2 linked regions of the Homo sapiens genome follow. The protein of the gene in region 2 interacts with the protein of the main gene of each other region in a pairwise test. Each region holds a gene or a part of one and is shown on either strand. Other genes may lie near its edges.

What was found. The genes of interacting proteins can lie anywhere in the genome.
Region 1: the proteins of PREX1 (region 2) and RICTOR interact in binary tests that used the Homo sapiens proteins (3 or more experiments, as listed by UniProt).

The regions. Positions count from the first base shown.
Region 1 is NC_000005.10:38,948,797-38,952,547, reverse strand, and holds part of RICTOR (rapamycin-insensitive companion of mTOR), read left to right. Parts: intron 1-122; coding exon 123-352; intron 353-1,827; coding exon 1,828-2,836; intron 2,837-3,120; coding exon of another isoform or gene 3,121-3,192; intron 3,193-3,751. UniProt on the Homo sapiens protein: Component of the mechanistic target of rapamycin complex 2 (mTORC2), which transduces signals from growth factors to pathways involved in proliferation, cytoskeletal organization, lipogenesis and anabolic output.
Region 2 is NC_000020.11:48,826,043-48,829,793, forward strand, and holds the start of PREX1 (phosphatidylinositol 3,4,5-trisphosphate-dependent Rac exchanger 1 protein), read right to left. Parts: upstream 1,958-3,751; 5' UTR 1,819-1,957; coding exon 1,600-1,818; intron 1-1,599.

The DNA.
Region 1 (3,751 bases), on a different chromosome or scaffold from region 2:
ACGCAACCATTTTGGTGGGTTTTAGAGAAAGTTCAAAGTATGTATAGCAAATTAATCTGTGGTGGCTTTAAGAAATCTCAGCTTGGAATTATAACTGTTTTTACTGCATCTTTTATATACAGGACCTGTGTATATGTACTTGGGCTCATAGCTAAAACCAAACAAGGCTGTGATATTCTAAAATGTCACAACTGGGATGCTGTGAGGCATAGTCGCAAACATCTGTGGCCAGTGGTTCCAGATGATGTGGAACAACTCTGTAATGAACTTTCATCTATCCCAAGCACTCTAAGTTTGAACTCGGAGTCAACCAGCTCTAGACATAATAGTGAAAGTGAATCTGTGCCATCGAGTGAGTATCCTGACAGGTTCATATAAAGTTAGCCAATGTTAACATTTATATTTGAATTTTAGAATTTAAATGTATTTGTTACATTTGTAATTTGCTTTTGTCTAAGATAATTATTTGGCAATAATAGCCTCTTGGAGAATGTGTATATTTTCATAACAAAGAGTATAATCACCAGCTTACATTTTTCTCTCTCCTTATATTCTAAGTAGCTTTTGAGGATTCCTACAAAGTTATGTAATAAGCCATGTGCCAGAAGAACCAGTCCTCCTTTTTTTGACAGAAAAGAAACAAATATAACAAGTATTTATTTGTCTACCTTCTTTATTTAATCTTTTTACTCATTTTTCAGATACTGAGATTGTTGAGCCAGAATATATTTTTAACTGATATTATATTCACATCTTCATTTTTGAGAGAAGCACTAAATTTTAAAATAGTGAAATTGTTAATAGAGTAACAAAAATAGTTATATATAAAATGATTTGTGGTTTTAAGTCCTGTGCTAAGTGGTGTTAGGTGTACAAAATTTAAGGCATGGTTCTTCCTTTTAAGAAGATAGTGTCAGCTTTATCAGACTGTGTATTTCACCAAATCTGAGATGCCATGAATTATGAAATATGCCAATATTTTATGTACCACAAAAGAAGAAGAAAGAAGAAGTGCTGCCTATTAAACTAGGACATACTACAAGATGCATATTGATTTTAGAATCAGATTCTGTGTGAAAATAGAAGGGATTAAATGTGAAAAGTGTGCATCTTAGAATTGACAAAATATAGAAATGGTAATGCAGTATGCAAATTCACTTAGGATTTTCTTTTACCTTCTTTGAAAATATATTTGAAGTATTTGTAATTATTCAACAGAAAAGTTAATAAAAGAAAAATCGTATAGATGTCATTAGGCACTCACTTGGGTTGCGTCTTCTAGTAGAATTGGGCACTAAATTTAATGAGTTTCTTAGTATCTAAGGTAAAATGAGAAATAAACATAATTTAAACATGAATTTATAATGTTACCACTTGGTTCTCTGTAAGTATATTTTAAGATTGGGAATTCATTTCTTACAAGGTGAATTTCTCCTGCTTATAGTAATTTAAAGAAGAACCACTAGGAATCTGTAGTAATTGAGTAAGCATCCATGGCCAAGTCTCCTTTTTCCCTTTAATTTCATCCTGAATATTTGGAGAATCAAAAGAAACTTCATGTAACCTGTGCCATAGTGGGTCTTATAATAATTTTTCTTTGGAAATAACAGGAGATTCTCATAAATTACATAATTTTACATTTTATTCAAGTCCAAACTCTGGGTTTCAAGAAAGATATTTTCAAGTAGCTGAATGGTTTAACCGTTTATTTTTAAATTTTTTCCTCTAGATGACTAAAAAAAAATTTCCTGAAATGTGATGTCACTAATAGTTATCATGAATTTGTCATTTTATATGTGTTTTTATTAATTGATCCTTCAATCATAGGTATGTTCATATTGGAGGATGACCGGTTTGGCAGCAGCTCTACTAGCACATTTTTCCTTGATATCAATGAAGATACAGAGCCAACATTTTATGACCGATCTGGACCCATAAAGGATAAAAATTCATTCCCTTTCTTTGCTTCTAGTAAACTTGTGAAGAATCGTATCTTAAATTCGCTTACTTTGCCTAACAAAAAACATCGTAGTAGCAGTGATCCAAAAGGAGGGAAATTATCATCTGAAAGTAAGACAAGCAACAGGCGAATCAGAACACTTACGGAGCCCAGTGTTGATTTTAATCATAGTGATGATTTTACACCCATATCCACTGTACAGAAAACATTACAATTAGAGACTTCATTTATGGGGAATAAGCACATTGAAGACACTGGTAGTACACCAAGCATTGGAGAAAATGACTTAAAATTCACCAAGAATTTTGGTACAGAGAATCACAGAGAAAATACAAGCCGAGAGAGGTTAGTAGTAGAAAGTTCAACGAGCTCACATATGAAGATACGTAGCCAAAGTTTCAATACAGACACTACAACAAGTGGCATAAGTTCAATGAGCTCAAGTCCTTCACGAGAGACAGTAGGTGTAGATGCTACAACTATGGACACAGACTGTGGAAGCATGAGTACTGTGGTAAGTACTAAAACTATTAAGACAAGCCACTATTTGACGCCACAGTCTAACCATCTGTCTCTCTCCAAATCAAATTCGGTGTCCCTGGTGCCTCCAGGTTCTTCTCATACGCTTCCTAGAAGAGCACAGTCCCTTAAAGCACCCTCTATTGCTACAATTAAAAGTCTAGCAGATTGTAACTTTAGTTACACAAGTTCTAGAGATGCTTTTGGCTATGCTACACTGAAAAGACTACAGCAACAAAGAATGCATCCATCCTTATCTCACTCTGAAGCTTTGGCATCTCCAGCAAAAGATGTGCTATTTACTGATACCATCACCATGAAGGCCAACAGTTTTGAGTCCAGATTAACACCAAGCAGGTAAGCAAATATATGTTTAGAAGTGACCAATAATGGTTGCATTTTAACAAATTTAAATACAAAATGTTAGCCAGGTTTTACACTATGTGAGCCTCATCACTGACCTATTATAATTGTTTACTATGGTAGGCTATAAGCTCCTTGTTACCCGATATGACTTGAAATGGATTCTTGCAGCTGCGAGGGGGGAAGAAAATCCTATAGGCCCTGAAAATAAACATACATGCTTTGCAAAGGACATACAAGTCACAAGCTTTTTTTTATTTATTTCTCGCTTCTGCAAGGATCGATTTTAAAAAGAAGCATGTCGGGGGAATCAGGAGCTTAAGACCTACAATAACAAACAACCTTTTCAGGTAGGTCAATTTAAGGCTCCAAAAGTTGACCTCTTTATTATTTTTTTAAAAAGATAAATGAAAATTTCAGTGAAATTATTTTCACTTTAAGTAGCTGTGATTATTAAATAGGAACCTAATAAACACTAAATGAAATACTTGGTCCTCATGACTCAGCAGGGATTTCTATACCATATTTAGATTATATCAAGCTAGTCAAAGTGAACAGTTTAGATTTTACTTTTAAAAGATACACAGTATTTGCTGCAAAAAAATTTTGTACCTATAATTTTTGTGGTTGGACCAAATGCTTCTAAACAACTTTCCTTAGTTTTAAATTATTCATTTACATTTATTTAAGTGGATTAATATATGTCAGGTACTTATATGTCAACAATATATGTTAGAATACTTTAGCACATATTAAGCACTCAATAAAAGTTAGCTATTTATCATCATCATTGGTAGTTATTTAATGTAATCCATCTAGCCCTTACATTATTCTTAATAACATTAAGCAGTTTTGTTTCAATAATGCTTAACACATTTAATAGAGGGTTTCTTGGTAGCAGACAATGAA
Region 2 (3,751 bases):
CTAAGGCTGTCTCCTCCCTGAGCTGGAACTCTGATCTCACACAGCCTCAGCTGCACCCCTAAGCCATGAGGAGCCCCAGAGGACCCCAGAGTCTCCCTCTTTCTCCCAAAGACTAGGAGCTACAAAGCCTGGCTCTAGGGTCTTTGAAAGAGCCACCCCCACACCAGCCCTTCCTGAACCAGGATTAAAAGACTTCCTAGAGCAGAGAAGGGGAGTAAATGAGGCCCCAGCAGGAGGCATGGAGATTAAAGACTTTAGAGTCTCCTAACTTCCATCCAAGGCTCTGCCCCGTCCCACCCCCTCCACCCGCTGGCCACTTTTCTCACTTCCTAGGAGAGTAGGGAAGTGGCCCCTTCCTCCCTCTCACAGAAAAAAAGCAAAAGAAAAATGCAGCATAGAATAGGGGTTTAGAACACCAGCTGGGATAGTCCCGGTTCAAAGCCCAGTACCCCCACTTAATCAGCTGTGCGATCCCAGACAAGCTACCCGGCCCCTCTGGAGCTAAACTTTCCCAATCTTAAAAACGGAGGAGGCAGGACCCAGTAGCTCACGCCTGTAATCCCTGCACTTTGGAGGCCGAGGTCGGCGGATCACTTGAGGCCAGGAGTCCAAGACCAGCATGGCCAACATGGTGAAATCCCCTCTCTGATAAAAATACAAAAATTAGTCGGCCGTGGTGGCTGGCGCGTGCCTGTAATCCCAGCTACTCGGGAGGCTGAGGCAAGAGAATTGCTTGAACCCGGGAGGCGGAGGTTGCAGTGAACCGAGATTGCGCCACTGTACTCCAGCCTGGGTGACTGAGGGAGACTCCGTCTCAAAAAAAAATTTTTTTAATTAAAAATGGGGGAAATACTCGTCCCTACTTCATAGACCGCCTGTGAAGGTTAAACCTGCTAATTAATGACACATGTAAGGTGTCTGGCACATAGTAAGTGGTCGGTTGTTATTTTACAAAGTCTGAGGCCGTGGTTTTGCACTTGGAGATGGGGAGTTGGTGGGGGTGGATGCAGTTAGGGAGCCTGGACTGCCGAGTTTTGAGTTCGAAACCCACTCTCCCCGAACTCCAGCAAAAACCTGTGCATGGGGGATTCTACCCTGGGGTTCTGTCAATCCCCGCCCCTCCTCTGAGCTTCAGGTTTTATCCTACTCCATCAACGCGCAGGGACGTTGGGCTCTGGGGCTCCTACGGTATGTCCTAGATGAGTGGTGCACCGGGCGCGTAGTTATTCCTGGGAAAAAGACGCAGGAGCGCCAGCTCCCGGCGCCGCCGGGGTCCCCAAGCCCCTGCATCGCGGATGTAACTAATTTTAAAACTATTTGAAAGGCGGGGACGGGGAAGAAAAGACAAAAGGGCAGCGCGCGCCGCGGGGAAGTGGAGTGCGGGAGAGCCCCGGTCGGAGCAGGACCGTGCGCCGGCCAGGGAGGGAGGCGACGCGACAGCTCTGGAGGAGCTCGGATCCCCCCCGCTTTCCGCGCGCCCTGCGGGGCGCCCCCGAGGCAATTCTCCACCCACGGGGACCACGGCCACAGGTTGTGGGGACCGCAGCGGGGCGAGCGGCTGGAGGGAAAGCTGTCCCCAAGCTCCCGAGCGACACTCACCGACTGCAAGAAGCGCAAGGTGCCCACGTAGTCCCTCTCGGTGCCCAAGATCTCGTTGAGGACGCAGAGGCGGAGGCGCAGCTGGCGCTCGGACTCCCGGGCGGCCGCGCACGGGCCGGGGCCGGAGCTGGGCGCCGCGGCGCCAGGGGCCCGGGGGTCCGGGTGGGCGCAGTCCCCGGCCCCGTCGCCGCCGGGCTCGCTGCCGCTGGGCGCCTCCATTCTAGCGCGGCCGCGCGGCGCCGGCTCCTTCCGTCGCGCCGAGCGGCAACTCAGGCGTCCAGGCGCCCCATCCCGGACGGGGCGCGCCGGCGGGCCGGGCTCAGCGGCGGGCCGGGCTCCCGGCGCGGCGGGCGGGACTGGGGGCCGGGCGGCTGGGCCGGGGGCGGAGGCAGCGCGCGGGGGCCGGGCGAGGGGCGGGAGGGGGCGGCCCTCGGGGCTCCCAGACGGCTGGCCCCCCGCCCCCGCGCCAGGGACCGTCTGCCAAGTGCCACGCCGCGCTCGGCCGCAGAGGCGCTCTGCGCGTGCACGGGGCCCCTGGGGACGCGGCGCGGCGCTCGGCGCCTCCGTCGGAAGCTCGGGGGTCGGGCGGGAGCCTCCGGAAGGGCCCCGCGGAGCCGGGAGTCCGAGGCCGCGCGCACGCCGAACCGAGCGTACCAACTCCGCGCCCGGACGCGTGGCGCCCCCCCAACCCGCAGTCACCGCGGGCTACGCCACTCCCACCCGGCACACGCGACACCCGCCGCGCGCAGGCTCCTGCTTGCAGGTCCGGCCGCTGCTCGGGCCAAGTAAACACCGGGCTGGGAAAGCTCGCTGCGGAGCCGCTCGGGGGCAAGCCAGCCCCGCCACGCGCGCCTCCGCGGCCCCGGGAAGTCAGGGGCGACCGCTGCCTGGGCAGTGACGGCCCCTCTCTGGGCAGTGACGGCCCCTCCCGGGAACGCCGGGCCCTCGCGGTGCCCTCGGTGCTACCACGACCTTGGGAAGGAACATGCGTGGCGCGCGCTCGCTCTCACTTTTCTCTTTCCCGTTTCCTTTCCCATCTCTCTCTTTCCTTCCTTCCTTTTCTTTCTGAACTTCTTTGCCCCCTGACCCTGCCCTTTCCACCTTTCCCAGAAGAAATTATTACCTGCTCTTGAGTTATTGATCAAGTGGCAGGTACCCTGCCTGCTCCCCCTTCCATCCACCCACCCCATGGGATAAGGCCTTGGGAAACCCAGCTTCTTGTCAGGTTGCTCTGGGCAATGTTGATCATCACCCGCCTTATCGGAAGGTATGGAGAGGGGAGGAAGTTCTGGGGCCTAGAGTCAGCTGCTCAGGTTCAAATCCTAGCTCCCCACTTGCTGGCCGGGTGGCCTTGGGCTGGTTTCCTTGCTTCAAGATCCTCAGTGTTTTCATCAGTATAACGGGAACGATCATGGTACCTAGCTCCAAGGTCCTCCCCGGGGTTCCATGGGAAGTACTTAGCACCTAGAAAGTTCTCTGTAAATGTTTGTTCTTACTATTATTGCATGTGTGAAGCCCAACACCTAGAAAGTTCTCTGTAAATGTTTGTTCTTACTATTATTGCATGTGTGAACGGCCCTCTAAGCCTGGCCCCACTCTCAAATGGCCCATACAATCCCTAATCACCCGTGTTTCCGGACCAGAGATTGTATCGTCTCTGCAGGGGATAAAGTGATCCACATAGTATCCGCCTCTAGACTGTAGTCATTTTATGGACAGAAACATTGCTTATTTATTCCTGTTCCAAAAGCCTAGGATTTTCCTCCCATTGGCCTCTCAATACTGTAAGTGCCTAAGGACACAGGGAGAGAATGGGGTGGCTTCTGCCCTCTCTGACTTCTTTCTTTGGGATCATGGGCAAGGTAGCATTTGATCTGGGCCTTGGGCTGAGTGAAGTTCCCCTGGGCAGGGAGTAAAGGACATGAGATAGGTGAGCCTGTCACGCTTGGGTAGTGGAGTCAATTGTGTCCAAAGGTAGCTGGTTTTTTATTTATATTTTTATTCCTAATAAAGGCCTCTGGAGTATCTCTGCTTTGTGACTTTAAACTGTTCACGGTACCTTTCTGAGCCTCCGTTTCCTCATCTTTAAATTAATTCTGTCTACCACGAGGGGAGAACATGGCTGGAACATAATGGACCATGGAATGAAGCG